Homo sapiens: one gene and its partner. The protein of the gene in region 2 interacts with the protein of the main gene of each other region in a pairwise test. Each region holds a gene or a part of one and is shown on either strand. Other genes may lie near its edges.

The links.
Region 1: the proteins of TNFAIP8 (region 2) and EAPP interact in binary tests that used the Homo sapiens proteins (3 or more experiments, as listed by UniProt).

What each region holds. Positions count from the first base shown.
Region 1 is NC_000014.9:34,524,433-34,541,561, forward strand, and holds the start of EAPP (E2F-associated phosphoprotein), read right to left. Parts: upstream 15,270-17,129; 5' UTR 15,197-15,269; coding exon 15,123-15,196; intron 11,844-15,122; coding exon 11,662-11,843; intron 9,108-11,661; coding exon 9,012-9,107; intron 5,044-9,011; coding exon 4,926-5,043; intron 376-4,925; coding exon 265-375; intron 1-264. UniProt on the Homo sapiens protein: May play an important role in the fine-tuning of both major E2F1 activities, the regulation of the cell-cycle and the induction of apoptosis. Promotes S-phase entry, and inhibits p14(ARP) expression.
Region 2 is NC_000005.10:119,389,447-119,405,745, reverse strand, and holds the end of TNFAIP8 (tumor necrosis factor alpha-induced protein 8), read right to left. Parts: intron 14,744-16,299; exon of another isoform or gene 13,575-14,743; intron 12,931-13,574; coding exon 12,365-12,930; 3' UTR 6,058-12,364; downstream 1-6,057. UniProt on the Homo sapiens protein: Acts as a negative mediator of apoptosis and may play a role in tumor progression.

The DNA of each region.
Region 1 (17,129 bases), on a different chromosome or scaffold from region 2:
TAGATCTAGATCTAGATCTAGATACACACAAAAACTAGCCAGGCATGGTGGTGGCCGCTTGTAATCCCAGCTACCTGGGAGGCTGAGGCAGGAGACTCGCTTGAACCCACGGGGCGGAGGTTGCAGTGAGGCGAGATTGTGCCACTGCACTCCAGCCTGGGCAACAGAGTAAGACTCTGACTTCAAAAAAAAAAAAGTCTGTTTCTAATTTAAACAAAATATGTATGTGTGTGTGTGTGTGTGTGTGTGTCCTTCATCCATTACCTTTGGCAATCAAGGCAAAGTGTGGTCATGCAGGCAGGACAATTCAAGACAGCATCACTATTTGGAACAGGCTGTTGTTGACGTGATCTCTGTGGTCCCAAACCATGGTAACTAGAACAGAAGAAGAAAGTGGGGAGAAAAACATATTAAAACCAGATCTTGGTTTCTAGTGTCATTTTCCAATAAAAAGAACCAGTACTATTCAGAGAAATGGCTAATTCTAGGAATAAGGAACACAAGATGAACCTGGAGCATCTTTTAGTGCCAGAAAAGAAGGAAGTAATCAAGAAAACAAAAACAAAACAGTGAGGTGGTTATGACAAAGGGAAACAGGAGCCAACTGAACAAGTCACCAACTGCCAAAGCTGAAACTGAGCAACAAAATAAAGTAGGACTGGATTACAACCCAAAGTATAAATACCCACGAATCCACGCTAATATAAATGTACTGAATAAATAAATAAATGGAGGAGAACAGACAAATCCCCACACAGAATTCTAAATAATCTATAAAGATGCTCTTCCCTCACAGTGGTGGAGTATAACTCCCTAGTCCTTAAGTCTGGGTTGGACACAGTGACTTCCTTCCAAAGAGTACGGTATGGTAAGGCGGGGTAAAAGACTAACTTTACAGTAGAGAAAGTTAACACTGGTCAGCAAGGTGATCGAGGTCAATACCAACACACAAAACTCAGGTTGGTAGTATGTACTCTTGATATAATGTGAGGAAAATGGCTCTCTACTTCTATGTTCTTACTTATAAAAATCCATAATCCCATCCTAATTATGAGAAAAAACAACAGACAAATTCCAACAGAGGGGCCTCCTACATAGACCTGATTAGTGCTCCTCAAAGTAATTAAGGGCACTGAAAACAAGGAAAGTCTAAGAAACTGACAGAGTCAAGAAGAGCCCAGGGAGACATGACAACTAAAAGTGATGTACTATCCTACACGGGGTCCTCAAACAGAAAAAGAACAGTACATAAAAACTAAGGAAATGTTTTAAAATTATGGACTTTGATTAATAATAATGTATCAAGGCCGGGCTCGGTGGCTCACGCCTGTAATCCCAGCACTTTGGGAGGCCGAGGCGGGCGGATCACGAAGTCAAGAGATCAAGACCATCCTGGCCAACATGGTGAAACCCCATCTCTACTAAAAAAATACAAAAATTAGCTGGGCGTGGTGGCACATGCCTGTAGTCCCAGCTACTCAGGAGGTTGAGGCAGGAGAATCGGTTGAACCCAGGAGACGGAGCTTGCAGTGAGCCGAGATCACGCCACTGCACTCCAGCCTGGGCGACAGAGCGAGACTCTGTCTCCAAAAAAATAAAAAATAAAAAAAATAATAATGTATCAATATTAGTCCATTAATTGTGACAAGTGTACCAAAAATAAAAGTCCATGAATTTTTTAAAAACAGTAAAGCTACATTAAAAAACAAGCACACAGGCTGGGCATGGTGGCTCACGCCTGTAATCCCAGCACTTTGGGAGGCTGAGGTGGGTGGATCACAAGGTCAGGAGTTCAAGACCAGCCTGGCTAACATGGTGAAACCCCGTCTCTACTAAAAATACAAAAATTAGCTAGGCATGGTGGCGGGTACCTATAATCTCAGCTACTTGGGAGGCTGAGGCAGAGAACTGCTTGAACCCAGGAGGTGGAGGTCACAGTGAGCCGAAATTGCGATACTGCACTCCAGCCTGGGCAACAGAGCGAGACTCTGTCCCAAAAAAACAAAAACAAAAACAAGCATAGAGCCAGGCTGGAATTACACCTGTAATCCCAGGCCAAGGTGGGCAGATCACTTGAGCCTAGGAGTTTGAGACCAGCCTGGGCAACATGGTGAAACCCTGTCTCTATAAGAAAATAAAAAAAAAAATGAAAATAAAAATAAACAAGCATAAACCGGGCATGGTGGCTCACACCTTTAATCCCAGCACTTAAGGAGGCCAAGGTAGGAGGGGATTGCTTGAGCCCAGGAGTTTAAGATCAGCCTGGGCAACATAGCAAGACCTTGTGTCTATTAAAAATTAAATTAGAAACAAAAAAAACAAGCATGGACTCAGGAGGCTGAGGCAGGGGGATCATTTGAGCCCAGGAGTTCAGGGCTACATTGAGGTATGATAGCATCAGTGCACTACAGTCTGGGCAACACAGCAAGACCCTGTCTTTAAATTAAAAAAAAAATGACCGGGTGCGGTGGCTCATGCCTGTAACCCCAACACTTTGGGAGGCCGAGGCAGGTGGATCATCTGAGGTCAGGAGTTCGAGACCAGCCTGACCAACATGGAGAAACCCCATCTCTACTAAAAATACAAAATTAGCCAGGTGCAGTGGCACATGCCTGTAATCCCAGCTACTCAGGAGGCTGAGACAGAAGAATCGCTTGAACCTGGGAGGAGGAGGTTGCGGTGAGCCAAGATCACATTTGCACTCCAGCCTGGGCAACAAGAGCAAAACTCCGTCTCAAAAAAAAAAAAAAAAAAATGGCCTGGCACAATGGCTCACACCTGTAATGCCAGCACAGGAGGTGAAGACAGGAGGATCACCTGGGGCCAGGAGTTCAAGATCACCTTGGGCAACACAGCTAGACCTCTCTATTAAAAAAATTTTTTTAATTAGCCAGGTGGTGTGTGCCTATAGTCCCAGCTACTCAGAAGGCTGAGGTGGGAGGAGTGCTTGAACCCGGGAGGCGGTGTGTGCCTACAGTCACAGCTACTCAGGAAGCTGAACCAGGAGGAGTGCTTGAGCCCAGAAGTTTGAGGATACTGTGAGCTATAACTGCACCACTGCACTCCAGCCCAGGCATCTCTTAAAAAAAGGTGGGGGCAGAGGGTGTGGAAACAACACAAACATCCATCCCTCAGTGGATGAAAGGATAAACAAATTGTGGTATACACATACAATGGGATACTATTCAGTCATAAAAAGTAGAGAAGTACTGACATGTGCTAAAATGTAGATGAACTTCAAAAGCACTATGCCCAGTGAAAGAAGCCAGATATAAAAGGTCACATACTGTATAATATCCCATTCATAAGAAATATCTAAAATAAGCAAATCCACAGAGACAGTGCACAGATCAGTGGCTGCCAAGGGGCTGAGGGGAAGGGTAGGGAAACTACCTAACAGTACAGCGTTTCCTTTTGGGATGATGAAAATGGTTGAAACTACATAAAAGTGGTGGCTGTGCAACATTGTGAATGGTATTAAATGCCACTAAATTGTTCACTTTTAAAGTGGGTACTTTTGTTATGTGAATTTTATCTCAAAAAAAATTTTTAACTGCTCCTTGCAGAGCAGGGCTACTCCATAAGCAGTGTACCTAGAGTAGCCTCATCTCAATTTTTTTTTTTTTTTTGAGACAGTCTCATTCAGTCGACCAGGCTGGAGTACAGTGGTACAATATCAGCTCACTGCAACCTCCACCTCCTGGGATCAAGCGATTCTTGTGCCTCCAGAGTAGCTGTGATTACAGGCACACACCACCATGCCAAGGTAATTTTTGTATTTTTAGTAGAGATGGGGTTTCGCCATGTTGGCCAGGCTGGTCTTGAACTCCTGACTTCAAGTGATCCGCCCGCCTTGGCCTCCCAAAGTGCTGGGATTACAGGTGTGAGCCATCATGCCCAGCCTCATCTCAATTTTTAAAAATCAAATTTGTAAGTAGTTAAAAAGAACAATTTGCTAAATCCACTCTTCATCCACAAAACCCTTTTTTTTTTTTTTTTTTTTTTTTGAGATAGGGTCTCATTCTGTCGTCCAGGCTGGAGTGGAGTGGCGTGATCTCAGCTCACTGCAACCTCCACCTCCCAGGTTTGGGCAATTCTCCCGCCTCAGCCTCCTGAGTAGCTGGAATTACAGGTGTGCGCCACTATGGCCCCACTAATTTTTGTATTAGTAGAGACAGAGTTTCACTATGTTCGCCAGGCTGGTCTCAAACTCCCGACCTCAGGTGATCCACCTGCCTCGGCCTCCCAAAGTTGCTGGGATTACAGGTATAAGCCACCACCCTGGCCCATCCACATAAACTCTTAATCTCAAAGTAATTTAAAACAGCATCTGAAAAAAAAAGTCAGTTTTTCTTGAGGGAGAGATTGACTAACGCAGCCTAAATTCAACAAGTTTAAAAAAAAACAAAAAAACAATTGTCGGGCTGGATGCAGTGGCTCAAGCCTGTAATCCCAGCACTTTGGGAGGCCGAGACAGGTGAATCACGAGGTCAGGGGTTCGAGACCAGCCTGGCCAACATGGTGAAACCCGGTCTCTACTAAAAATACAAAAAATTAGCTGTGTGTGGTGGCAGGCGCCTGTAATCCCAACTACTCGGGAAGCTGAGGCAGGAGAATCTCTTGAACGCAGGAGGCGGAGGTTGCAGTGAGCCAAGATCGCGCCACTGCACTCCAGCCCAGGCGACAGTGCAAGACTCTGTCTCAAAAATAATAATAAAAATTTAAAAAATTTTAAAAAAAAGTCTCACTAAAATTTGCTGGTTATTTTCAAAATAAACTACTGAGCAGTTTTTTCCTCTAACTTTTTTGTTTGTGTGTGTGTGTTTGTGTAAACATATACACATATATTCAAAATGTGAATGTAGTAAAAATCATCTTTCAATCTTTTTTTCTAAAGATTCTAAATATTAACTTTAAGTTCTTACCCCCTTCTCTGTGCATCAACCCAGGCCTGATCTCTGTTATCTTTTTCAGGATCATACAGTAATTCGTCATTTGTTGGAATCTTGTGTTGTTTCTTCTTTTTTTTCTTGGTCACCTGTACTAATTTTGAAAATATTAGGATATGGCTAAGAATCATGTGTCAAGTTCACACTTCTTTAAATGAAGAGTCTCATTTCCCAAGCTACACATTTATTTATATTTTCCCTAAAAAGTTAAAAAAGGGACGGGCGCAGTGGCTCACACCTGTAATCCTAGCACTTTGGGAGGCCAAGGTGGGTGGATCACCTGACGTCAGGAGATCGAGACCAGCCTGGACAACATGGCGAAACCCCGTCTCTACTAAAAATACAAAATTAGGGCCAGGTGCGGTGGCTCACGCCTGTAATCCCAGCACTTTGGGAGACCAAGGTGGGCAGATCACCTGAGGTCAGGAGTTCGAGACCAGCCTGGCCAACATGGTGAAACCGCCTCTCTACTAAAAATATAAAAATTAGCTGGGCATGGTAGTAGGCACCTGTAATCCCAGCTACTTGGGGGCCTGAGGCAGAAAAACTGCTTGAACCCAGGAGGCAGAGGTTGCAGTGAGCCGAAATCGTGCCACTGCACTCCAGCCTGGGTGATGAGAGCGAGACTCCGTTTCAAAGAAAAAGAAAATAATAAAATAAAATACAAAATTAGCCAGGCGTGGTGGCAGGCACCTACAATCCCAGCTACCTGGGAGGCTGAGGCAGGAGAATCACTTGAACCCAGGCGGTGGAGGGTGTGGTGAGCCGAGATCACGCCATTGCACTCCAGCCTGGGCAACAAGAGCAAAACTCCGTCTCAAAAAAAAAAAGTTAAAAAAAACCCTTCATCTAAACAAGTGCTTGTCCAGGTAGGGTGCGGTAGCTCACAACCTATAATCCTAGAGCTTTGAGGGGCTGAGACAAGAGGATCGCTTGAGGCCAGGAGTTCAAGACCAGCCTGGCCAGCATAATGAGACCCCATCTCTACAAAAATAAAAATTAAAAATTAGCCAGGCACACCTGTAGTCCTAGCTACTAGGGAAGCTGAGCTGGGAGGATGGCTTGAGCCTAGGAGTCTGAGGATGTAGTGAGCTATAATTGCACCACTGCACTGCTGGAGACTGGGTAAGAGTGAGACCTATCTCTAAAAAAGTAAAAAATTTAACAAAAATTTAAAAAATAAAGTTCTTCTCCAACTAATAAGGCATTAAAATGACAGAGGAGGCAAAAATTGTTTATTTACCCAAAACTGGTATCTCAAGGACTAAGTTCAAACAATGAGAATTCAGAGACTCAAAAGAGCCACTCAAAACAAGCCAAGAATAGAAATTATTTATGATGTATGAATATATATATAAAATGCTACTAAAATTAGAACAAAAATATTTCAAAAGTGAATTAAAAAAAACAGTATGAGGTCAGATACAGTGGCTCACATCTGTAATACCAGCACTTTGGGAGGATTGCTTGAAGCCAGGAATTTGACACCAGCCTAAGCAACAAAGCAAGACCCAATCTTTACCAAAAAAAAAAAAAAAAAAAAAAGAAAGAAAGAAAGGAAGAGGAAAAAAACAAAAAAAAAGAGAAAAAAAAAAACTATGGCCATCTACATACACTAGACTTTTTGAATGTATTCTAGCAGGCAGGGAGTGGTGGCTCATGCCTGTAATCCCAGAACTTTGGGAGGCCAAAGTGGGCAGACAACCTGAGATCAGGAGTTTCAAACCAGCATGACCAACATGGCGAAATCCTGTCTCTTCTAAAAATACAAAAAGTAACCGGGTATGGTAGCTTGTGCCTGTAGTCCCAACTACCAGGAAGGCTGAGGCACCAGAATCGCTTGAACCCAGGAGGCAGAGGCTACAGTGAGCCAAGACTGTGTCACCGCACTCCAGCCTGGGTGACAGAGTGGGACTCTGCCTAAAAAATAAATAAACAAGGCTGGGCGCGGTGGCTCATGCCTGTAATCCCAGCATTTTGGAAGCCTGAGGCGGGCGGATCACGAGGTCAGGAGATCGAGACCATCCTGGCTAACACAGTGAAACCCCATCTCTACTAAGAATGCAAAAATTTAGCCGGGCGTGGTGACGGGCACCTGTAGTCCCAGCTACTCAGCAGGCTGAGGCAGGAGAATGGTGTGAACCCAGGAGGCAGAGCTTGCAGTGAGCTGAGATGACGCCACTGCACTCCAGCCTGGGCGATAGAGCGAGACTTTGTCTCAAAATAAATAAATAAATAAACAAACACATACATTCTAACAGGTCAATATTTAAGTAACAATGCATAAAAGTATAATATTGTTCTTTACCACAGAAATTTGCTATTTGAATATTTCATTGTAATTACTGAAATAATTAGTTTTAGCTCTTGTTATGTTCAACTTTGCTCAAATTTTATAAAAATTCAATTTTCAGGCCGGGCACAGTAGCTCACGCCTGTAATCCCAACACTTTGGGAGGCCGAGGTGGGTGGATCACAAGGTCAGGAGATCAAGACCATCCTGGCTAACACAGTGAAACCCCTTCTCTACTAAAAATACAAAAAATTAGCCGGGTGTGGTGGCGGGCGCCTGTAGTCCCAGCTACTCGGGAGGCTGAGGCAGGAGGATGGCGTGAACCCAGGAGGCAGAGCTTGCAGTGAGCTGAGATTGCGCCACTGCACTCCAGCCTGGGTGACAGAGCGAGACTCCGTCTCAAAAAAAAAAAAAAAGAAAGAAAGAAAGAAAGAAAAATTCAATTTTGAACATAGAGGCTGATTAAAAATCAACGCATTAAGAAAAATTCTGCAGGAGGAGGCCAGGCCGCGGTGGCTCACACCAGTAATCCCGGCACTTTGGGAGGCTGAGGCGGGTGGATCACCTGAGGTCAGGAGTTCAAGACCAGCCTGGCTAACATGGTGAAACCCCGTTTCTCCTAAAAAAACAAAAAATTAGCCAGGCATGGCGACAGGCGTCTGTAAACCCAGCTACTCAAGAGGCTGAGGCAGGAAAATTGCTTGAACCCGGGAGGCACAGGTTGCAGTGAACCAAGATGGTGGTGCCATCGCACTCCAGCTTGGGCAACAAGAGCGAAACTCCATCTCAAAAAAAAAAAAATTCTGCAGGAGGATTAAAACATAGAAACTATTTTCAGGCATGAAAACAAATATTGCTACTATAGGAAACCTAAAGGAAGAGGGGGGAAAAGCCCTGAGGAGGGGAGGTATTGAGTTGGGACACACTCTCTCTCACTCCCTAGGTACATCCAAGCAGCACCACTGTTGGTGCCATGTCCTCACATGCCTGTGTCCCCAGCTTTTTTTTTTTTTTTTTTGAGACGGAGTCTCACTCTGTTGCCCAGGCTGGAGTGCAATGATGCGATCTCAGCTCACTGCAACCTCTACCTCCCTGGTTCAAGCAACTTCCCTGTCTCATCCTCCTGAGTAGCCGGGATTACAGGTGCATGGCACCAAGCCTGGCTAATTTTTTTGTATTTTTAATAGACATGGGGTTTCACCATGTTGGCAAGACTGGTCTAGAACTCCTGACCTCAGGCAATCTGCCCACCTCTGCCTCCCAAAGTGCTGGGATTACAAGCGTGAGCCACCATGCCCAGCCCCCAGTTTTTCTTATTAATCAATCCTGCTTTTGTTTTCACATCAATGGCATCCACTTTATTTATTTATTTATTTATTTGAGACAGTCTCACTCTGTCGCCCAGGCTGGAGTGCAATGGTGCAATCTCAGCTCACTGCAACCTCCGCCTCCTGGGTTCAACTGATTCTCTTGCCTCAGCCTCCCAAGTAGCTGGGACTACAGGCGTGCACCACCATGCCCGGCTTATTTTTGTATTTTTAGTACAGATGGGGTTTCACCAAGTTGGTCAGGCTGGTCTTAAACTCCCAACCTCAGGTGATCTGCCTGCATCAGCCTCCCAAAGTGCTGCCATTACAGGTGTGAGCCACCATGCCTAGCTGTAATTTCTTAAAAGACCAAACTCAGAGGGAAATCCTAACATCTAATAATTGTTAGGTAAACCTTTTTTATAAAATATAACTGCTAAACCTGGTAAATAGGTTACTTACCTGCTCTGTCTTCATCCTCGGAATCAGAATCAAAATATATATCATCGTAGTACCTTGTCGGAGCTGTTGCAACTTTTCCATTTCCTGAGGAAGATCCTATTCAAACCAGAAGTAAAGTTTACAGACTAAATCATACATAATTCACAAGGCAAAAAACTCCATATATTCTTCCATCACCTCAAAACAATATCAACTCATTCACAAACTCATTTGATGGTGAAATATTTTCACATCAGTGAATTACTCGATGTCTATGCCCTATACAGTTACAGAGAACTGGCCCTCCTTAAAATGTTCCAAATCTTGAGAAAATTCTTCTCTCTCCCTTCCCACAAATCTCATTAAATAAAATAGCGATATTTTCAGGTTGCCAGCACACATATCTCTACCTTTCAGTCATACAGTATACCATGCAGAACATAGAACAAACATTTTGTTCTAAGAAACATTAGGAGAAAAAGGGTAAGAACCCTATAGGAAGGCAGGAGGAATGAGTCAAGGACACATTCTTCTCCTCAGTTGTGCCCAGGACCATGACATTACCTATACTTATGTCATCATATGCCCATATCCCTAATTCCTCTTAGTTAGCATCTGCTTTAGTTTTTATTATATTTTTATATGCTTTCAGATTTTTCCAGCTAATACATAGCATATCAGGGTGGAAATCAATGCTGAAGAGTCCTACTTCCTTTTTTTTTTTTTTTGAGACTGAGTCTCACTCTGTTGCCCAGGCTGGAGTGCAATAGCACAATCTCGGCTCACTGCAACCTCTGCCACCTGGGTTCAGGTGATTCCCCTGCCTGACCTTCCCGAGTAGCTGGAATTATAGGCAACTGCCGTCACTCCCAGCTAATTTTTTGTGTTTTTAGTAGAGACAGGGTTTCACCATGTTGGCCAGGCTGGTCTTGAGCTCCTGACCTCATGATCCACCCACCTCAGCCTCCCAAAGTGCTGGGATTACAGGCGTGAGCCACTGCACCCGGCAGAAGAGTCCTACTTTCACAAACCAGTTTTCAGGTCAGGTACATTTTACATAAAGACCAAGTATCAAAATGAACTATGTTTCATTACTCACTAAAGTGAAACAGAAATTTGTGATGATACATAATTAAATCTGCCACATTTTAGTGCCATCTAACCCTAAAAATACTTTTGTAAGTTTGTGTGTCTTTTTTTTTTAACTCGAGTAAAAACTGCAAAATAAAATTATGCAAGTAAACAGTATTAACTAATCTCTTTCCAAGAACACAAGACAGTCATCAAACAAACTCCAAGCCAGGCACAATAGTTTATACCTATAATCCCAGCACTTTGGGAGGCCAATGCAGGAAGATCACTTGAGCCAGGAGTTTAAGACCAGCCTGGGCAACATAGTGAGACCCTGTCTCCACAAATTTTTTTTTTTTTTTTTGAGACGGAGTCTAGCTCTGTCACCCAGGCTGGAGTGCAATGGCACAATCTCGGCTCACTGCAACCTCTGCCTCCCGGGTTTAAGCGATTCTCCTGCCTGGCCTCCTGAGTAGCTCGGACTGCAGGCACGTGCCACCAAGCCCAGCTAATTTTTGTATTTTTAGTAGAGATGGGGTTTCACTGTATTGGCCAGGCTGGTCTCAAACTCCTGACCTCGTGATCCACTGCCTCGGCCTCCCAAAGTGCTGGGATTACAAGCATGAGCCACCACGCCTGGCCTTTTTTTTTTTTGAGACGGAGTCTCACTCTGTTGCCCTGGCTGGGGTGCAGTGCCGCGATCTCAGCTCACTGCAACCTCCGCCTTCCGGGTTCAAGCAATTCTCCTGCCTCGGCCTCCCAAGTAGCTGGGACTGCAGGCACGTGCCACCACACCCAACTAATTTTTGTATTTTTAGTAGAGACGGGGTTTCGCCATGGTGGCCAGACTGGTCTCGAACTCCTGACCTCAGGTGATCCACCCACCTCGGCCTCCCAAAGTGCTAGGATTACAGGTGTGAGCCACTGCACCCGGTCGCTACAGATTTTTTTTTTTTTTAGATGGAGTCTCGCTCTGTCGCTCAGGCTGGAGTGCAGTGGCGTGATCTCAGCTCACTGCAAGCTCCGTCTCCTGGGTTCATGCCATTCTCCTGCCTCAGCCTCCCGAGTAGCTGGGACTACAGGCGCCTGCCACCACGCCCGGCTAATTTTTTGTATTTTTAGTAGACACAGGGTTTCACCGTGTTAGCCAGGATGGTCTCAATCTCCTGACCTCGTGATCCGCCCGCCTCGGCCTCCCAAAGTGCTAGGATTACAGTCGTGAGCCACCGTGCCCGGCCCAAATTTTTTTTTTAATTATCTGGGCACAGTGGTACATGCCTGTAATCTCAGTTATTCAAGAAACGGAGGTGGGAAGATCATTTGAGCCCAGGAGTTTTAGGCTACAGTGAGCTATGATCATGCCACTGCACTCCAGCCTGGGTAACAGAATGAGACATTGAATCTAAAGTAATAAATAAATAACTTTTTTAAATGAGAAAAGGAAGACTCTAGCTCAGACTGCCAAATACATTCACTCCTTCATTCAATAAATATTTATTGAGCACCTACTGAAAGTGCTGGGAACATAGAAGAGCACAAATAAGGTTCCTGCCCTTACAGAGCTTACAAAAATATATATAAAATTGAACCAAAAGTTTACCAGTTCCCAGAGAGGATAACTTGTCCTCCATTGTTTTCATGGTAGAATTTAATTCAGCTTCCATCTCCTTTTCAAATTCATCTTCACTAGATGATTCACTTTCTCCGGTAAGACATTCTCTGATGAGTTTTCGTTTTTGGTCAGGAGTTCCATGTAAAAGCACATCCACTTCATCCTCAGAGCTAGCATACATTTAAATCAAAAAGAATATGAATATTTAAAAATTAAAATAATTTTAAACTCCCAGCATCTCACTGTCCAACAACAATTTTAAGTATTACATGGTTACATTTGATGTACTTATACATTACATATAGCTATTCTCACTTAATAAGCCAGTTCTGCATATTTCCAATCTTCTTTAATTTTTTTTTTTTTTTTTTTTTTTTGAGATGGCATCTCAGTCTGTGACCCAACCTGGAGTGCAGTGGCATGATCTCAGCTCACTGCAACCTCCACCTCCCCAGTTCAAGCAATCCTCCCACCTCGGGTTCCCCAGTAGCTGGAACTACAGGCACATACCACCATTCCCAGCTGTTTTTTTGTTTTGTTTTGTTTTGTTTAATTTTTGTCGAAATGGGGTTTCGCCATGTTGCCCAGGATGGTTTTTTTGTTTGTTTGTTTGTTTGTTTCTTTTGAAACAGAGTCTCGCTCTTGTCGCCCAGGCTGTAGTACAGTGGCATGATTTCTGCTCACCGCAACCTCCACCTCCTGGGCTCAAGCGATTCTCCTGCCTCAGTCTCCCAAGTAGCTGGGATTACAGGATTCAGAATCCGTCTCAAAAAATACATAGATAGATATATAGATAGATAGATATCCTGGTTGTGATACTGCACTATAGTTTTGTAGTATGTTAACACTGGAGGAAACTGGGGAAAGAGTACACAGGATCTCTCTGTATTATTTCTTTTTTTTTTATTATTTTTTATTTTTTGAGATGGGGGTCTCCCTGTGTTGCCCAGGCTGGAGTGCAATGGTGCCATCTTGGCTCACTGAAACTTCCGCCTCCCAGGCTCAAGCCAACCAACCGCCTCACCCTCCTGAGTAGCTGGGACCACAGATATGCACCACCATACCAGCTAATTTTTTGTATTTTCAGTAAAGACATGATTTCATCATGTTGCTCAGGCTGGTCTTGAACTCTTGAGCTCAAGTGATTCTCCTGCCTTGGCCTTCCAAAGTGCTGGGATTACAGATGTGAGCCACTGCACCAGACCTGTATTATTTCTTATAACTGAATGTGAATCTACGAAAACTTCAAAATAAAATGTTTAATTTTTAAAAACTGAATCACAAAGTGAGAGCTATTTTTTCTACAAATTTTCTTCAATCCTTGTCATTATCTCAACCAAAGTCTCAGTTTTCAGCACTGCTGAGAAAGGCAGTCATACATCATGGACCCTAGATATGCAAGTTAAGTATGCCAAGAATGCAAGGTTCTGACCACTGTTCACTCCAGCCATTTCTCAGGATTGTGTTTGCAGCGAACAACAACCTTGAGGAATGAGATAATGTCTCCTTCCAGGACAAAGAGCAGATGTATTTACTGTCTTCTATGAAAGAGGTGGATTCTCCAAGCTCAAGTAGTCTTTAGCCACGATGCCAACCCACTGAATGTGCAGCATTCTTCTAGGACCCTCAGCGTAATACCTGTAGGGTTGACAAGCAAGAGCAAGCCACACAAACATGATGCTCATGCTGCTTGCTGTGCTATGTGTAGTCTTATCTTTGACCCAGGAGTCTCATGTCTTCGGTCAGCTACCGTGAAACAGTTAACAGGCTACAATGTATTAGTTTATAAACAGTGTAAAATTAAATACTGACAGACACCTCTCTAACACTAATCTCCCTTTTTAAAATAATAACCATTTGGCTCAGAGCCTACAACAGGCAATACTGTCTGATAACATTGTTTTGTTTTTATAATATTTATCTTTACAGTTACCTTACCAGTGGCAACTGTCACAGAATTATAAAGCTTCCTTAAAAAAATGATACAACAGTCCTGGCTCCGTGGCTCAGGCCTGTAATCCTAGCACTTTGGGAGCCCGACGCAGGCAGATTGCCTAAGGTCAGGAGTTCAAGACCAGCCTGGCCAACGTGGTGAAAACCCATCTCTACGAAAAATACAAAAAATAAGCCAGGTGTGGTAGCGCATGCCTGTAATCCCAGCTACCCAGGAGGCTGAGGCAGGAGAATTGCTGGAACCCAGGAGGTGGAGGCTACAGTGAGCCAAGATTGCACCAGTGCACTCCAGCCTGGCTGACAGAGTGAGACTCTGTCTCAAAATAAATAAATAAATAAATAAATAATTGAGACATACATATATACATACCTCCTTTCACAGACAGGACCCATTAACTGAAACTCTTTTTCACAGGGAATCCTGGTATCTATCCTCACTCCCAACAAAAGAAATCTTAACAGCAGTCTGATTTCCCATGCATCCAATGTCTCCCCATGACAATATGAGGAAACATTGTTCTTTTGATTTTTTTTTTTTTTAAGAAATGAGGTCTCACTATGTTGCCCAGGCTGTTCCTTTACTACCAGGCTTAAGAGATTCTCTCGCCTCAGACTCCCAAAGTCCTGGGATTACAGGCATGGGCCACCACACCCAGCCAAAGTTGTTAATGAAAGCATGGCTTTACAGAAAGCTTCTTTAGGCAGAATGAATGTTTTAAAGTTTAAGAATAGGATCTGCTGACAGCTTAAGAAATAACTAAATTTGTGTGGAAATATCTCGGCAAAACAGCTTCAAGTTTCCCTGGTAGAATAAAGCCCACCCTTCTGGAAATCCCACGAACCTTCTTCTGTGCCTATCTCAGGTCAATATTCTCTACAATGCTCTGCCAAGAAATATATACTTTATCTTATTACCCTTATTATACTATAAGCCTCTGGAAGACAAGGACCTTATGATTTATCTCTGTAGCTCAGAGCGAGCATACAACAGTCCCTGTCAAAAAATAAAAATAAAAAAGGCTGTTCAATATTCCCTTATTTCTGTTTATGGCAGTTTAGTCTTCAAGATGGACACTTCACATTAAGTCCTGTGAGCCTCACAACAAACATAGTGTGTTATACTATGTTATATAGGTTATACAATTATGTTATTATAGTTCAATTTTACAGGTGAGTAATCGAGGATAACTGACTTGCCTTCCGTCACTCTGCTACTAAGGTGTAGAGACAGGTTTCGATCTCATTGCTTTTGAAGATTTACACGCGGTCCCCCGTGATTCCGGAATATCCCTCTTCCTACAGGCGACATCGGCACCGCCTCCCCCCGGGACTGCGCGACCCCATCAGGAAAGCCCTTTGGCTTCGCACAAGTAACAGGCACGACAGGCTCCCGAGCCGCTAGGGTCTGCGTAGGCTCGGCAGGCGCAACGAATGGAGGCGACCAAAGCCAGGCCTCGACCCAAATCCTCGGGGGCCAGGGTGGGGCGGGAGCCCACCTGCTCAAAGCCGGCTCCTCGTCGCTAGGCTCTTCAACCGCGTAGGGGTCGTAGTCATCCGGAAGCCGGTTCATGGTGGCCTGCAGCGGCCTACACCGTCCACAAGCAATTTGCAGCGTCTCTGTTTACACTGCAAGTCCAGTCCCTAAAGCGCCCCTGACGCCACTTCCGCCTGAACGTCCCAGTCCCCCTTGCGCGCCCGCGCAGACCGACAGCACCGAGGGAGGCAGGTAGAAGGCGGGGAAGGGGCGGAGCAGGAGCGAAAAGGGGCGGGGACGGGACGGGGGCGGGTCTTAATCCCACCATTTTTGTTTTGTTTTGTTTTTTGGAGACGGAGTTTCGCTCTTGTTGCCCAGGCTGGAGTGCAATGGCGCGATCTCGGCTCACCGCAACCTCCGCCTCCCAGGTTCAAGCAATTCTCCTACCGCAGCCTCCCGAGTAGCTGGGATTACAGGCATACACCACCACGCCCGGCTAATTTTGTATTTTTAGTAGAGACGGGGGTTTCTCCATGTTGAGGCTGGTCTCGAACTCCGGACCTCAGGTGATCCGCCCACCTCGACCTTCCAAAATGCTGGGATTACAGGCGTGAGCCACCGCTCCCGGCCAATCCCACCATTTTCTTCCGCAGCTTCTGCTTACAGGAAAATAGCAGCTACCTTGTCACCAAAAATAATAATGATGGGCACCCTCATAAGTGACAGTCTCTGAGGTGAACATGCTACATGCAGCGTCTCATCACCTACGAAGCAGGAATCTAGACGCTGAGGGACACACAGCCCGAAATCCAATAAGTCCTCAGACACCAGCACCCACATCCCTCCAACCTCGCCTCTAACCCTTATGCCTTCCACACCATGAGGCTCTCAACCTCTCCTTCACACTGTTCACTCCTCAGTCTGACTGCGGCCTCAACAATCTACGAAAAGTTATCTTTTCTCGTCATCTTCCCAGTCCCCACTTTTGCTCAGCCCTCAACTGATCCCACTCGATACCTGAGGAGAACAGGCAGATGACAGCCACTTGAGCTCCATCGGGAGACTGTTTCTAACCCTGTTTCTGAACCAGGAACTCGGGTTCCTGCCTCCTACCGAGACACTGTGGCACTCTCTAAAATGTGGAGTAGCTGTAATAAATCTACTCCTGTATTATGCTTTACAGTGCAGGTCTTAGTTTTTCTTTTTTCTCATTTCTTTTGAAATGGCATCTCGAACAAAGTCCACCAATCCCTTTACAAAAGAATGAACTGCTCCTCTGTGTGTACTTCATAGAAGGTGGAATCGGACAGAAGCAGGTTAGTGACAGTTATTCCTGAAATACAGGAGCAGAGTACAGTCTGTTGTGGTTTCCCGGATTCCGCGCCTAGCTCAGCCAATTAAGCATGAGACATAGGCCATTGAGCCACTTAGTAGTTATGCGAGTGGATAGATTGGTATGTAGAGGGAAAGAGGTCTGCTGTAAAGAACAACACTTGTTTGTCTGTGGGGAAAGAAAAGCAGAATACTTGAGATGAAAGTTGGCATACAAATAGGATACTATCGCCAGTAGTTATATTACAAACATTATCGGCCTTTCTAGTGTGAATGAACATTAGACACATTATTGTCATTCCTAGTTTAAAGTTAAGGTTGCGTGGTTGGATTTTTCCACTATCTTTTTCTAATTTTTCTACCATTTGGAGACCGTAGGCATTTGGGCCTGTCACCCCTTGGATGGGTTCCTAGTTTGTTTACATTTTCCTGAACCCTCCTGAGCGCCCGTTCTTGGTCTAATCCCCAGTCGTGATGATTCCACACTTCCTCAGCCGCATGTTGTCTTGCCTCATTCATGAGCTGGTCAGCGTTTCGTCTCTTTAACTGACATGTTCCCCAGTGCTGTTTGAACTGTTGAGTTTCCGTTGCTGGCTGAGTGCGTTTTGTCCTTCACGTAACCTTCGCTGGTAAAAATAAGCCCATGTGATGTCCACCAGTGGATGAATGCTGGACCGAGAGCCCTAGCTTCTGGATC
Region 2 (16,299 bases):
CACAGAGCAGGGGTCTGTGTCAGTCCTGGGTTCAAGCCCTTGCTCTGCCCCCTGACCAGCTGTGTTGCTGAGAAAATGTGTAATCTTCTCAGTGTTAGTTTCTCTTCTGTAAAAGGGAATGACACCATATATCTCATGGTAAGAGGGTGCTGTATACAACATCTAGCAGCCTTATGTTAGCACACAGCAAATGGTTCGTGATCATGGCATCGTACTCAGGGTGGGGATGTCTGAATCCCGACATCACTATGAGAAGATAACTGCAGAAGGAACGGAATTGACTGCAGACAGGAAAGGATTAAAGTTAGAGATACTAATTTGATCTCTGCAAAAACTTATCTTGACTACCTCAGATGTGCCACTTTGTCTTTTCTGGAACAAAGAATAATTTTATCATCTGTGAGAACTCACGTCAAAGCGTCCCTTGATACACTCTCACTTGTAAACAAAAGTTTTCAGACTGGAACTTGCAGCAGCCCTGCTACTAGTGAGAAAAAGCAGAGGGTGGAACAGGCAGGACAATTGGCCTCTATTGTCATGCAAATAATTTCAGAAATGTCACTTCTTGAGATACTGAAAAGCTGATGGTGGTGGTTCATCGTACCTTAGGGAAACAGCATTTAAGCATCCCTGTTCAAGCTCATTAGTCTTCTTGATCATGTCTGCTTCCCCTTCACCAAAGTGATCCCTAAAAATAGCTGTTCCTCCCTTCAAAAGATGAACCAAGGGTGGGCGTGGTGGCTCACACCTGTAATCCCAGCACTTTGGGAGGCCAAGGCAGGCTGATCACCTGAGATCAGCAGTTTGAGACAAGCCTGGCCAACATGGCAAAACCCCATATCTACTAAAAATACAAAAATTAGCTGGGCGTGCTGGCATGTGTCTGTAATCCCAGCTACTCAGGAGGCCAAGGCAGGAGAAATGCTTGCACCCAGGAGGTAGAGATTGCAGTGAGCCAAGATTGTGCCACTACACTCCAGCCTGGGTAACAAAGCAAAACTCCTTCTCAAAAAAGAAAAAAAAAAAAAAAAAAAAAAAAAGATGAACCAAGGAGAAACTATACAAAGTAGGGGATTGGTTCAGTTGTTTGTATTTCAGCATATACTTATAAGCACCATGATCATCATCATCCCATACAGTATTTGGCGTTTGGTGTTTATCAGGCCTTAGAACTATTGTTGGCTTGATTGCTGGCATTAGGCTCAAGTGAGCAAGGAGCTGAGAGTGGTATTACACTCTTATATTTGACTTTACAACATACCTGGGAGAGCATCCTCATGGTGTTTGCTGCCTAAAATTGGTAGTCAGTCAGTCTTAGAGGTTATTTAAAAATATTTGATGAATCTTATAAGTAAAAGAAACCAGACACAAAAGAGTATATATATACTGAATGATTCCATTTACATGAAGTTCAAAAATAGGCAGAACAAATCTCTAGAAGTCAAAATAGTAGTTACCTTGGGTGGGGGACTTCTGGGTGATAGAAATGTTCTGCTTTTTAATGTGGTTGCTAGTTAATAGTTATGTTTACTCTGTGAGAAATTTCTCGAACTGTACGCTTATGATTTTCTGTATATTGAACTTCAGTAAGTTTACTGAGAGGAAGAGGAAGAAGAAGATGAGGAAGAGAAAGAAGAAAAGGGAAGAAGAGAAAGAGGGGGCAAGGAGGAAGAGGAGGGAAATAAATGAAAGAATGAACTAAAGGAAATGCATGGAATTTAAAACAAAACAGCACGCAAAAAAATAAGCACCTGAAAAGACATTCAATATCATAATTAAAATCACAATGCAATATCACTACCCACTTATTAGAACAGCTAAAGTAAACAATAATGGTAATGTCAAATAATGGCAAGGATGTAGAGAAACAGAGTCTCTCATACATTTCTAGTGTGAATGTAAAATGGCACAGCCACTCTGGAAAATAGTTTTTGCAGTCTTTACCATACAATTCAGCAATCACACCCTTGGCTATTTATTCCAGAGAAATGAAAAATTATGTTCACACAAAAACCTATGGATGAATATTCATAGCAGTTTTATTCATGCTAGAAAAATACTGGAAACAACCCAGATATCCTTCAATGGGTGAGTGGTTGAATAAACTCTAGTGCATCCATGCAATAGGATACTGCTCAGCAATAAAAAGGAATCAATTACTGATACATGCAACAACCTGGCTATGTCTCAAGGGTATTATGCTTAGTAAAAAAAAGCCAATCTGAAAAGATTACAACTGTATGGTTCCATTTATACAACAGTGAAAACTAAGGAAGTCTGTAGTCTAGCACCAACATACCAGTGTCAATTCCTGGTTTTGATATTGTACTACATTACAGGTCACCATTTGACAAAGCGGATGAAGGGACACAGGACTCTTCGTACTATTTTTACAACTTCTTATGAGTCTATAATAACTTTTTTAAGTTTAAAGGAAAAAGAAGAATCTTTGACCCTGTCCAATTTGAATTAGCCACACACGTTTATGAATGCCACTCCCCTCGGGCAGGGCTGGAACTCCCCAACTCCTGTAGTTTAGTGTGAAGCACGGTCAGTGGAAAACACAAGTCCTACTTGGAAGTACATTTACAGAAAATACTCACAAAAGATAAGGGAAAGGAGCAACCAAACCATGCTTCTTAGACACTCTGGTTGATCTCTTGCTCCTTGGGCTTGCGATGATTTATGTGACGAGAACCACATCAACATAGAACTTCAGGCTCTTTTTCTAAAATAGGAAACTTTATATACGAATGGAAGATTTATGAGAACTAAACAGAGGAATTAAAGATGAGCTATTAGGGAAAACAGATGTATTGAAATTACCATTGGAAAAAGACTGAAAAGCTTAGTTTGTCTTGAATTCCGAACTCAATTCTTGCTAACAGTAACCAGGAAGTCAGAGTCTCTTACCAAGACAGTAGCTTTCCCTTTCCTTAAGCTGAAAGGAGTGGGGAGCCAACGTCCGGTTGGTGGGTTTGTTTCTTTTAGAGTCTGGGGGAGGGGAGTGTGGCAAAGGCTACTTGAAGGCAGAATAGAGTAGAGTAGACATCTTTCTCGACCTGCTAATAAAAGCCAAATTGATTCTGAACATAGGGTAGGTTTTTAAGCAATCAGCCATGTTTATATTATTGTTCTTGGTTGAAATTACACAGTTTAGTCAAGAGATTACAATTTTTAAAACTAAAACTGGAACTACAAAAGCCCATATTTTTGTAAAATTCTTTCATGAATTAGCAAGTGTTAGAAAGTCTTGTAATTCATTCAAAAAAGGACCTTGCACTCCAACTCTCTGAATGTAAGGGAGTGAAAAGAAAAAGATCCTTGTCTTGTCTGGAGCCCCAGGGAAAGCCACAGCCTCAACCCCACACTGCGCTTTGTCCTCAGGGCTGTGTTCCTGAGCTTGATTGCCAGTCATTTGCCAGCAAGAGGATGGATTGTTTTGTTAATGTTTCTTCTTCAAGACTCAGGGAGCTCAGGGTAGTCATAGGGACAAGCCAACAGACAGAACCAAATGGTGAGCAGTACCCACTGAGATCTGGGCCTATGGCATGGCTAGTCACAAACTGAACCTCTTCAACCATGTACTTCTGTGTCCTGGCCTGAGGGGTCAAGGGACACACATATGCTTCACTGGGCACAAGGATATGAAGTCAGAGTTTATGCAGCTTCATAAATCAGGCTGCAATCTAATTTCTAGATAAACGATTTTAAAATGTTAAAAGCATCTCCCATGTTGCTATTACTCAGATAGTCCCAAGAATCAGAATGTTAAATAAGATGTTACTTAAATGTTGATTAAAAATTAATTGGGTGTGGTGGCAAGTGCCTAACGTCCTAGGAGGCTGAGGCAGGAGGATCGTTTGAGCCCGGGAGGCCGAGGCTGCAGTGAGCTATGATCACACCACTGCACTCTAGCCTGGGCAACAGAGCAAAACTCTGTTTTTTAACAAAATGAACCAAAAAAAGTGTTTAAAATATTATTTTACATTCTTCCATTCAGTAGAATTTATAATCTACATTTTGCCAGGGGCTTTTTATAACCATTATTATTTTGAAAAAAAAAAATAACTTGTAAGCTTTTTTTTTTTTTTTTTTTTCCCAGACAGGTGTTGCGCTCTGTGGCCCAGCCTGGAGTACAGTGGCAAGATCTTGGCTAACAGCAACCTCCGCCTCCCAGGCTCAAGCCATCCAAACTATCCTCCCACTTCCGCCTCCAGAGTAGCTGGGACTACAGGTGCATGTCACCATGCCCCGCTAATTTTTGTATTTTTAGTAGAGACAGGGTTTTGCCATGTTGTCCAGGCTGGTCTTAAACTCCTGGGCTCAAGTGACCTGCCCACTTCCCAAAGTGCTGGGATTACAGGTGTGAGCCACTGGGCCCAGGAACTAAAGGAAATGCATGGAACATGCATTTATAAAGGAAAATAAAGGAAAAATGGCCCATTTTATCTTCTACTTATACTGTCTCACATATACCACCTCCCCCACCCGCCCCCAGCACACATACTTGCCACTGATTTTGAAAAAGAAATCGGCCGCTACTTTGAGCTTATTGCTTTTAAAATATCAGTTTAAAGCTCAAAACACTGTTTGAAAATTGTTACATCAGAAAGCCTATGCTGGGCTAAAAAAGCCTTTCTTAGGTTCATCTGCATCGTGGGAAGCCCCGTTCGGTATTAAGTTACCTGTGCATTGTAAGTGTCCCCACCAGTCAGTAAAGAACTAGGTGTTACTGCATAGTTCCAGGGTACAGCCTGGCGTTAGGCACATAGTAGCTGTTTAATCATCATTTCTTGAATTACGTAGATTAACTTGTCAGGACTCACATGTTCACATGGACAGGAATGTAGTTATTAACTACATTCAGGTTAGTCCACCCTTATTTTATATATTTGTTTCCAATTAAAAACAAACTATTATGTGAAGAACTCCAGACTCCCCAAGAATTCTGTTTTTGCTGGAGCCAAGAGGGTGGGAAACAATCATATGGCATCTAGTCTTCGAAGATGGCCTCAAAGAGCCATGCATCCCAGAATTCATGCCCTTGTGTAGTTCCTCCTGTACTAAACCCAGGTTGAGCCTGTGTGCAGTAAAGGATTAACTCAGCAAGATTGGGAAGTTCGAACCCTGCAAATTCCAAAGAAAGGACTGGCCCTTGACTAGATCTTGGGAGACAGTCTCCAAGCCCTTGGAATATAGTGCTTGATAAGAGTGCCTTTGTATGCCTAGGGCTTGAGCCATGACACATTGTTTATGCTAACAATGTGATTTATGATATTCACCTGGAGCTCTGGGCCTCCCTGTTTCAGTTTGACTTCTGGAGGGGCTGGAGCCTGAGTAACTAAGGTTAGTCATGTGAGTGCTCCATGCCTCATTAACAACCCTGGACTCCCAAGGCTGGGGTGAGCTTCCCTGGTTGGCAATATTTTGTACATGTTGTCACACATCATTGCTAGGAAAATTTTGTGCTGTCTATAAAATTCTACTGGTCGAGGACAGCTGGAAGCTTGCACCTTCGTCTCTCCTGGCCTCTGCCCTATGTGCCTTCTTCCTTTGCTGATTTTCATCTGTATCCTTTTGCTATAATAAACCATAACTATGAGTACAATAGCTTTTCTGAGATTTCTGAGTCCTTCTAGAGAATCATCAAACCTGAGGGTGTCTTGGTGACCCCAATACAGCCTGTGATTTGATTTGACCAGTAGAATGAGGCAGAAATGATATTGTGCCTGTTCTGGGCATCAGCCTTAAGAATGCCTGGAAACTTCTGCTCTTGCAATTTGGGGTGCTCTTAGTAAGTAGTAAGTAGAGACCATGGGGAGAGGAGAGGCCCAGTCATCCAGGTGTCCCAGCCAAATCTTTGTAAGACTCCAGTCCCAGCCATGATCTGACCACAACCACATGATAGACCCCAAATCAGAGAACTGCCCAGGTGAGCACATTCAACGCACAGAATTGTGAGCGGGAACAAAATGGTTGTTGTTTTAAACCACTAAATTTTGGGGTGGCTTATAATACAGCAGTGGATAACTAAAACCAGCATGAATAATCAAGTGATTTAAGAGATTCAGAATTTAATTGGTTAAGAGATTATACATAAGTAGCTGCTAGAAATCATTACTTTCAACAATGCAACCCAAAACAATTTTCCTAAATTGAAAGCAAAAACCGATTTTTTTTTAAGGAGACTGGAATTGAACAAAATTCTCTCAGGCTGCTGAAGTCTGTTGCTTCATTTATTTTAGACTCAGTCTTCTTTTCATCGCTGATTTGGAAATAGTGAAAGGCCACCCGTAAACAATACCTCACATAGGAATAGCCTTCAGGAGGTCTCAGAGCCTTCCATGTCTTTAAAAATTGTATCTTTAAAATTAGAATATGAGGTAATTGCTCTTATGCAAATTTCAGAGACAACATGAGCGAGCTCCCTGGCAGGCAGAAGCTGGACGTCCTGGTTTCCTAACTGCTCCCACAAATGCCCTCTGTACCCTGCTGGGTTCCATCTGGCCACACTCCAGTGCCTCTCCCAGAGGAAGGCATGCCAAATTCCTGACACGTGGCGTTTGAAAATACCATGGAACGTTTCCACTCGTGGATTTCACCATGTTCTCCAGTGAATATTTTAGCAAGCTAAAAATGTGACTCCTCGGTCATGAGAACACTAAGTCCATATGATTCGAAAAGAGCAATAATGCTGGAACTTTGATCCAATTATCAGCAAGTCCTCTTCCAGGAGATTAAATGTCTTATAGTATTTTATAATTTGCTTAGCAGGTATTTATCCTTTAGTGAAAACCAATGGTCTTAGAAGAGAGCAGCAAAAGATGCTGACAAATCATTTAAATGGCTAAGTGGTCATTCTTGCTGGCCTAATAAAAGTCCATTTCTAGGAAGACGAAACCTCAGCTTCTTATAAATCATCAATTATCCCAGATAATGGTAACAATATAGATATTTATACTCTGAGTTTTTATTTCCGCGTCTTGTGTTTCAACTTCACATCAGGTTGGTTTTTAAAAATTTATTTATTTACTTCGAGACAGAGTTTCTTTTTTTTTTTTTGAGACAAAGTCTCACTCTTGTTGCCCAGGCTGGAGTGCAGTGGTGTAATCTTGGCTCACTGCAACCTCTGCCTCCTGGGTTCAAGTGGTTCTCCTGCCTCAGCCTCCCAAGTAGCTGGGATTACAGGCATGTGGCACTGCACCCGGCTAATTTTGTATTTTTAGTAGAGATGGGGTTTCACCATGTTGGTCAGGCTGGTCTTGAACTCTGGACCTCAGGTGATCCGCCCACCTCAGTCTCCCGAAGTGTTGGGATTACAGGCATGAGCCACCGCACTCAGCCTGGCAGTTTTAAACGAATGAATTCATCTGTAAGCTTTTGAATGGAAAAACCAAAGTAGAAAGAAACATATTGTCTTACATTATTCTACAAATCAAAACTTTTAAAAATCAAATTGTCTTTCTTGTATTAAGAACAAACCGCAAGTGCCTGATCATCTACTTTATTTCCACGAGGCAGAAATACAGTTATGCAGCTGATGTCAGGGAAGGCGGAGAATTTCCTCAGCCATCCATGAAGAAAGATAAGGGGCCTTATCCACTGGCTGTCTAATCTTATAAAGATCTCATGCAAATTTGGTGGACATAGGGCACAATTCTCTATCCTTGAAGAACATTTTCCAAAGCACAGATGTTTTTCTCTTAATTGTGAATGCTGACTGACTTGTCCATATCCTTTCTCAGTGCTCAGCAGATGGTACGATTTGGGACTCGCTTGTTCCCTATAACGTGGGGCTGATGTTCTTTGCTACGTGGAAAACACATCTTTGGTGAGACAGAAATGAATCAATATTACACAAAAATGTTTCCATTTCTGGAATTTCCCTGAGATAAAAATATCTTTCTGGCTTTGGGTATACATAAGTGACCGTGCAGACACTTAGTAAAAGAGAAAACAGATTTTCAATACTTCGTGGTGATGGTGACTATACGGGATTATAAGTAGTTAAAGGTTTTCCTGTTGCATCATTTTGGAAACAAAAAGCTGACTCATTTTCTGGTTAATGCTTCAATATTTTCATTAGGGAGTTTCTATAAAGTTTTTATCTGAATCACAGAAAGTACAATTATTTCAGAGGTAGGATAAAATTTTTTCTGTCATAAACAGCACTGTGTACTAAAACCTGCTATGAGTTTAACAAATCACCTAGAAGCCTAATGCTCAAGAATGCAATATATCAAGTAAAACACTGAAAAGTTCAACTAGTTTAGATAATGCAAGTATGGAAATGCAAGATTGACTAAAACTTTTAAATATTATCACTCTTATTAACATGCTAATTTAATTCATTTTACTGGAGTATTTTAATTTCCTGGCAATTGAATAGCACTTTTTACTACAAATATTTCATCATTTGGATAAACATATTCTTTTATTTACCATTTGTCAGGTTTTGTATGCTAAATTGCAACTGCTTATATACACTCATCAAGTATCTCAAGGATAAATTAAAATTCTTAGTAAAAATCCAACTGACCGGTACAGACCACAAAAAGTACTATTTTAAGCCTTTGGGGGCTTAAAAATTGTGTGTGTGTGTGTGTGTGTGTGTGTATTCACATGGTGGGAGAAAAAGAACTTTCCAGATAATTGTGAATGGCATACTATTATATAAGAGTTTAAAACGCAATATTTCTGTACGATCAAAGTTCTTAACTCATGCTTTTTTTTTTTTTTTTTTTTTTTGAGACGGGGTTTCGTTCTTGTTGCCCAGGCTGCAGTGCAGTGGTACAATCTCAGCTCACTGCAACCTCTGCCTCCCAGGTTCCAGCGATTCTCCTGCCTTAGCCTCCCAAGTAGCTGGGATTACAGGTGCCTGCCACCACATCTGGCTAATCTTGTGTATTTTTAGTAGCAGTGGGGTTTCACCACGTTGGCCAGGCTGGTCTCGAACTCCTCACCTCAAGTGATCCTCCCACCTCCGCCTCCCAAAGTTCTGGGCTTACAAGCATAAGCCACCGCACCCACCCCATGCTTTACTCTTAAACTAATTTTGAGTTGTATATGAAAGGCCTAATAATCAGAAAAAGGCTATTTCTTAACTTAACTTGCTCAAATATTTTGAGCCTCCAAATCTGGAAAATAATGTTGAAGTTTGAAACTGATGCCGTGCCTACTCTAGGGAGCACAGTACTGAACTGCTGCTTCCTTGCTTCTCTTGGTGAATGCACATTGAGTGCCTTGTCATGCTCTGAACCCACCACTGCTAGGGACAGCTGTGGGGGAGCAGCTCACTGCACCTCAGAAGTCAACGTTAAAAGTCATTGTGAGCACCTAGAAGTGAAGTTCCACGAGACAGAAAACTGAGCCACAAGATGCCCCCAAAGTAGGAGTCATGTTGAAAACTTTGAAAAATGTCTTTGTACAACATCTACACAGATCTTTAGAGAACAGGCCAGACCTGTGCTGACTTAGGTACTGCCTAAAATGTCACTATATGAGGAACCATTTCAGCAGCATACTGCCCACGCTTCTCTGAGCCAAAGATGTTCCTAGCACTGCCTTTAGCCATATCATCTTTAAGTGAAAATAAGATTTTATACATATTCCGGCTGGGACACCTCGAGCACATGTGACCTCAGGAAATTCCTTAACTTCTATTCCCCTAGTTTCCTTATCTATAAGATGGTGAAGATTGTGGCAGAATTAAATGAGTTAATGTGCCCGACACATAATACAAACTACTCTGCGTTAGTTGTCCATTAGTATTATCATCCACTTATCATATCCACTCATAATTTTTGCAGAGAAGCCACCAGCACAAAATAAAATCAATTACAACACAATTTTTTTCAAAACGTGAACAGATACTATTTTATAAAAAGGTTCATAGGATCCCCAAATTAGTATTAACTCGGCTCAGATTTATCTACCCTAAGCACGTGGGGATTCTTCCCAGCTCCCACGCTCCTTGCCACCCTAAATGCTCAAGGGGAGTCCTATTGTATTAGAAATGAACTTGCTAATCACGACTTTGGACCTGATCCAAGACATGCTTTTCAGGCACAGCACTGGTAAGGAGATGGGTCCCCTCCAGAAAATGCTGAGAAATGGTAGCAAACAGGATTCCCTCCTTCGGTCTACTCCTCACTGCCTTCCCTCTGTGGGAGATGAAGCATTGCTCCCCCAATCCCATGCACATTTGATTGCTAGCCTGCTGGCACAACCCTATGATCCAGTGTGTCCAGAGAGATCCAGATTTCTCCCTCCGTACGTTTTCTCTCTCTGGTTGGTCCTGTCTATAGCTACAGATGAGCAAGAAGCATCCATGGACTGCCCAGGGCTTTCGTTTCCCATACCTCTGCTGTTTGAGATCTGGAGAACAGAACACATCCAGTCAGTAGCTCACACCCCCCATCACATTCTCAGCCTTCACATGTGAGGAAAACAGCTGGTCAAGGAAGGCTGCTGAATTCCATTTATAAGCCACTTAGCAAGTTATGAAGCTAGAAGGGTCATTTCTGTAGTCACTGTGTTATTGTTACAGCATATACTGATCACCTACTGGCTCTAGGAAGTGAGAATGATACTTTCAGTTCAAATCTTAGTGTCAGGATTTAATATCAAACAGGAAGAAACTCTACACCTTTGCTGCTTGTCTTAGCCAAGCAAATGAGGGTGTCAGAGAAACTGACCACCCTCTCTAGGCTGAAATGGGTTAGAGCAGATCTCAACTTCTGGAATTTTTAGTTGTGGAACCTTTCCTGGTAAACTATTATTTTAATGTCAATATTCTGGGAGGCAGGCAAATTTAAGGCAAGAGAGTACACTAAATCATAGGCACAGTGGCTCACACCTGTAATCCCAACACTTTCGGAGGCCGAGGCAGGCAGATCATTTGAAGTCAGGAGTTCAAGACCAGCCTGGGCAACATGGTGAAACCCCATCTCGACTAAAAATACAAAAATTAGCTGGGTGTGGTGGTGCATGCCTGTAATCCCAGCTACTTGGGAGGCAGAGGCAGGAGAATCACTTGAACCTGGGAGGCAGAGGTTGCAGTGAGCCAAAATCATGCCACTGCATTCTAGCCTAAACAACAGAGCGAGACTCAAAAAAAAAAAAAAAAAAATCATAGACACAGTGACAATGGAAATGTTTATTGCTGGTGGTTGGGTCTGTCATTTCCTAGAGGACATAGCTGGCCAGCAGATTTTCATTTCTTTTTTACAAAATAAACAAATGCCTACTTTATTATTTATACACAGAAAATTATATAGAAACACCACACAAACTGCTTGAAATACAAATATTCTTTGGTTTACTTATCAAAGTAAAAAATAACAAAAATCTTATCAGTTAAATAAAAAAGTGACATTCTTTATCAAGCCTTCTTAAACACTGAAACGCACGCATTTTTATGCTCATGTTCTTTAGCAGTATTTCTCCCCTTTTGCCCCTCATTCCCCTAAATTGTTTCAATGAGTTCATCTGTAGAATGAAGATTGTTACCTTTCTTAATGCTACTTACTTTTTATTATCTCAATATCAAGACCAATCTAGACTTTTTTGTCTCTTACATGTGAAATGGATGTAAAAAATGGAAAATTCACCAGCACTTTTTAAGATAACATAAAAGAAGCCCTAAGCAAGCATTTCAAGGCAATGACACACCATTACATTTCTGAGAAATTTAAGTATCATTGGTACTTAAAAGGAGAACTCAATTCCAGAAGCATATTCTTATACTGGACATTATTCATAATAGCTAATATAGTTCATTTCCACAGTACTGATTTCAGATAAGCCATTTTTTTTTTCCTGAGGGTTGACTACCTCAGACTTAAATCCTGAATGTCGATGACTCAATCTTAACAAAACAGTCAGCTGTAGACATGAAAATTGAATTGTTTCAAAAGGAGCAATGATAGCAAGAGAAAGTTCTTGGCATTTTAAGAAAAGTACATATACATAGCAAGAAATGAAAGTAAATCAAAATACATAGCTTTGTACATGTTAGAAATATCCAATGTGCCACCAACACAACAACTGCCCTATTAAAAAGTCCTCAGGTCTGGAGACATCTGTATTTTTCTTTGTATAACTACATTTGCATTACCCAACCACATATCTCTCCCATGGTCTGTTACCCGTTAGGAAGCTTTTAACCAGAATTTTTGGCAATATGCTTTTCTTCAAATAAAACAAGCCTTCAAATAAATCATTATGTCTGACAACTGAATTGGGTAAAGTCTTTCTGAAATATGTGTAATCTTTAGAAAATTCTTCTTTTTTCCTTCATAAATCAGCAGTGCTCCATCTTCAAATAAATCATGATCAGTCACAATCTTAACTCATGTGCTCATATGTTCTCTTCATCCAACATTTTGTTGATACCATCACATAGTTTTTGTAAGTGGGGTTTAAAATTCCCAAAAGGATTATACAAGGCAGCCAAAAATTCACAATCTGAAAAATGATCAAACACATTATTAACCCGTCCATGTGACTTGGCAGTGAGGTGGCGCTGAATGATTTGGTGCAGCATCTCTCTGCATTCATTTAACAGCCTGGATAACACATTCCGGTCAAAGGTATAATCCACCTGATGGAAACTGACCACGGTCATAGCAAGCTGATGAACTTTCTTCTTAAATTTCTCCATCAATGCTAGCTCATCTTGATTAAACTGATTATTCCTATAAAGAATGGCCAGCTTGATGACTGTCTTGATGAGGTTCTTGATGATCTTCTCTGCCTCCTTCTTGTTTTGGGTGTACTCCCTGGTCACTCTGTAGAGCTCATCCAGCACCTCACTACTTGTGTCGTCTATTAAGGTGGTGGCGATGGATTTGGACACCATTTTACCCAAGATCTTCTTTTGTGCCTGAACGGCCAGGTTTTTGGAATTAAAGACATCTGTGGCCACTAAAAAAAAAAAAAGAGAGGAAAAGAATTAACAATTAGTAAATATCAGCAAGTGAAGCGAACTAAAAACAGGTATTTGGGAGCACTTTTTTTCCTCATTTTCCCACCATTTGTGGTTTGTCTTACATCTACCGACATTAGTCTCTGTTCAGAAAAGAATTTTTGGCTGGGTGGAGTGGCTCACACCTGTAATCCCAACACTTTGGGAGACTGAGGTGGGCAGACCACTTGAGATCAGGAGTTTGAGACCAGCCCGGCCTACATGGGCGTGGTGGTGGGCACCTATAATCCCAGCTACTCAGGAGGCTGAGGCAGAAGAATCGCTTGAACCCAGGAGGCGGAGGCTGCAGTGAGCTGAGATTGCTCCACTGCACTCCAGCCTGGGTGACACAGCGAGACTCTGTCTCAAAACAAAAAAAAAAATACAAAATCAACTCTATACCTGTCATCTGGGCAACAGCAACCACAAGCGATTTAAAAGAAATTCATTTAAATGGAAGAAGAACAAATGGCAAAGCCATAATATTGAGTAAAATGGCAGATTAAGCAAATCAAAAGGAAAGCCTTGTTTTATAATCCGGTTGCAAAAAGTCAAATTTCCCAAGACATTGGCCAGTGCCTACCAATTTGGCTGTCCTAAGTACCTTGAATTTCAGCCTCCAGAAGTCGAGTGTTGAAAAGAAGTGCTCCTTGGAGAGCTCATTGTCACTTGCTATTTCTGATGAATGGCCATTGTTCACTTTACATTTTTACACATTTTGGGGAAATAACCTTTTCATGAGCTAATGAAATGTGCTACATGAAAAATATACTTTGAAAAAGCTGTTGCTTAGAGTTTACTTTTGGAATTATAACTTCTGACAGATGTTTACAATATACATAATAATGGCTATACATATTAAATATTAAACAGACACTATATGTAATCTTCCCACCTTAGAGCTGGTCAAGTGAAAATGCTCAATAAATGTTTATTCTCCAAACCAAGTTTACTTTTCTTCTACCACAATTTTCCCCACTCCATGCATGTAGCAATCTTTTTTTTTTTTTTTTTTTGAGACGGAGTTTCACTCTTTTTGCCCAGGCTGGAGTGCAATGGCGTGATCTTGGCTCACTGCAACCTCCACCTCCCGGGTTCAAGTGATTCTCACAACTCAGTCTCCAGAGTAGCTGGGATTATAGGCACCCTCCACCATGCCCGGCTAATTGTGTATTTTCAGTAGAGACGGGGTTTCACCATGTTGGCCAGGCTGGTCTCGAACTCCTGGCCTCAGGTGATCTGCCCATCTCAGCCTCCCAAAGTGCTGGGATTACAGGCATGAGCCACCGCACCTGGCCCATTTCTCTCGCTTCTCCTAAGGCTTAAGAACTGCAGTTCTTTGGGTGTCTACTCAATCTCTGAGTCGAGTGGCAACTGTTCTCTCCATATATGCCAGTGTTTAAGCCTAGGCCTGGGTATCAGAAAGCAGTCATTTGGTAATGAAAGATAAAAAGTTTAAAAATACAGATACATACAAATGAGTCAAGGCATCAATGATTATATAAGATTATTTCTAGTTTGGATAGGCTAGCATCATTAGGAAGCAAAAAGGCAGCTGCTTCAAAATCCAGACTGGGAAGACATATAGGAAGAGTGACTCCCTTAATCCAGAACTGCCATGTTGGATTTAAAATTGGGGAAAGGCGGGGTGTGGTGGCTCACACTTGAAATCCCAGCACATTGGCAGGCCCAGGTAGGGAGAGGATCACTTGAGCCCAGGAGTTTGACACCAGCCTGGGCAACATAGCAAAACCCCATTGCAACAAAAAACTACAAAAAAAAAAAAAAAATTAGCCAGGTGTGGTGGCATGCACCTGTAGTCCCAGTTACTAGGGAGTTGGAGGTGGGAGAATAATCTGAGCCTGGGAAGTTGAGGCTGCAGTGAGCAGTGATTGCACTACTGCACTCCAGCCTGGGCAACAAAGTGAGACCCTGTCTCAGAAAAAATTAAAATTAAATAAAATTGAGGAAAAGAAGAACCAAATTAGATTTGAAATTTGGACCAAAGTAGTTCGTGGTATATAGTAGAGGCAGCTGCAAAATGGTTCCTTATGACCTGAACATCATTTATAAATATACAGTGCCATACATCCACTCAAAGAATGTCTTGATTGAATAAGAAAGGGTCCCCTCACAAATGTCGAAATTTAAACTTCTGAAACATGAACTGAAACTGCAGAAGAACTAAAATATATTTTGAAAAAGAGAAGGAAAGTGAAAATGTGTGAGAAACAGCCAACTTTATGGAGAAGTTTCCATCATTTAATGTTTTATGTTTTTATCATTTAAGCAGAAATCTGTTTCTATTCCTATTCTTCAATGATTTGCAAAAGAGTATAAAGATTAATTCACACTAAAGAATTTATGTCAAAAGAAATGGCATCCATGTAGCTAACAGTATCACATTAAAACCAGGGACCATATTTCATCTTAGAACTCCTGATATAGACCTCAAAAAAAATCAATAAACTTGATTTATATAGGGATACCCAACCATTTTCAGCTACTCAGCAGATAACCAGGATTTCAGTAATATATTACATATAAAGTTGAAATGTTATTGTGTTTTTTTTTAATGTTTTAGAACATGGCACAGTCTACAAATATCTTACCTGGGATTTACTACAAGTCTATCAGTTGGACATACTTTATGTTGTGAAATATTGAAACCAGAGGGAGAGGTATTCATAAGATTTCTCCTTTATCCAAGACTGGACTTTCATGTTTACACCTCTTCTCAGCTACTTTTCTGATTAAATCTCAATATCCCATTTAACTTCAAACATGGAAAACAAAAACTCTATGATACAGCACTTCAACTTCCTGCAAGAGAGTGTGTAACAGGCAAATCTACTGCCAACTAAGCAAGATCATTCCCCATTTACTGGTAATCAAGTATGAATCAAGATAGAGAAGTTGATCTCTGAGGCTTTCATATTTATCCTAGAGGAACTTCAAACCCCGCTCCAGAAACACAGCAGCTGTGTCACACTTTCCTTTTATTCTTTGGGTTATTCCAGTGAAGTCGTCTTTTTAAATGAGGTTGAAGCTCCTTGTTCCCCTCCACCATCTGAAGCTCTTTCTCCCCCTCCACCAAGAAGACATGCATGAGTAGATTTATTTTCCAGCATTAGAGAAAGTTTTTTTGAAGCCAACTGGGGCTTGTGGCTGAGAGTCGCTGGCCAGGGATGTGTGGTCTGTGCTCATGAAGTTTGTTTCTTTTTCTTGCAAATTAACTGCTGTTAGCCATTCCTGTGCAGGCTCATTTGTCAGTTCCACATGCTCTACCAGATCCCTTAAAAGTCTGGTGTATCTCAGAGCTAGTCCTG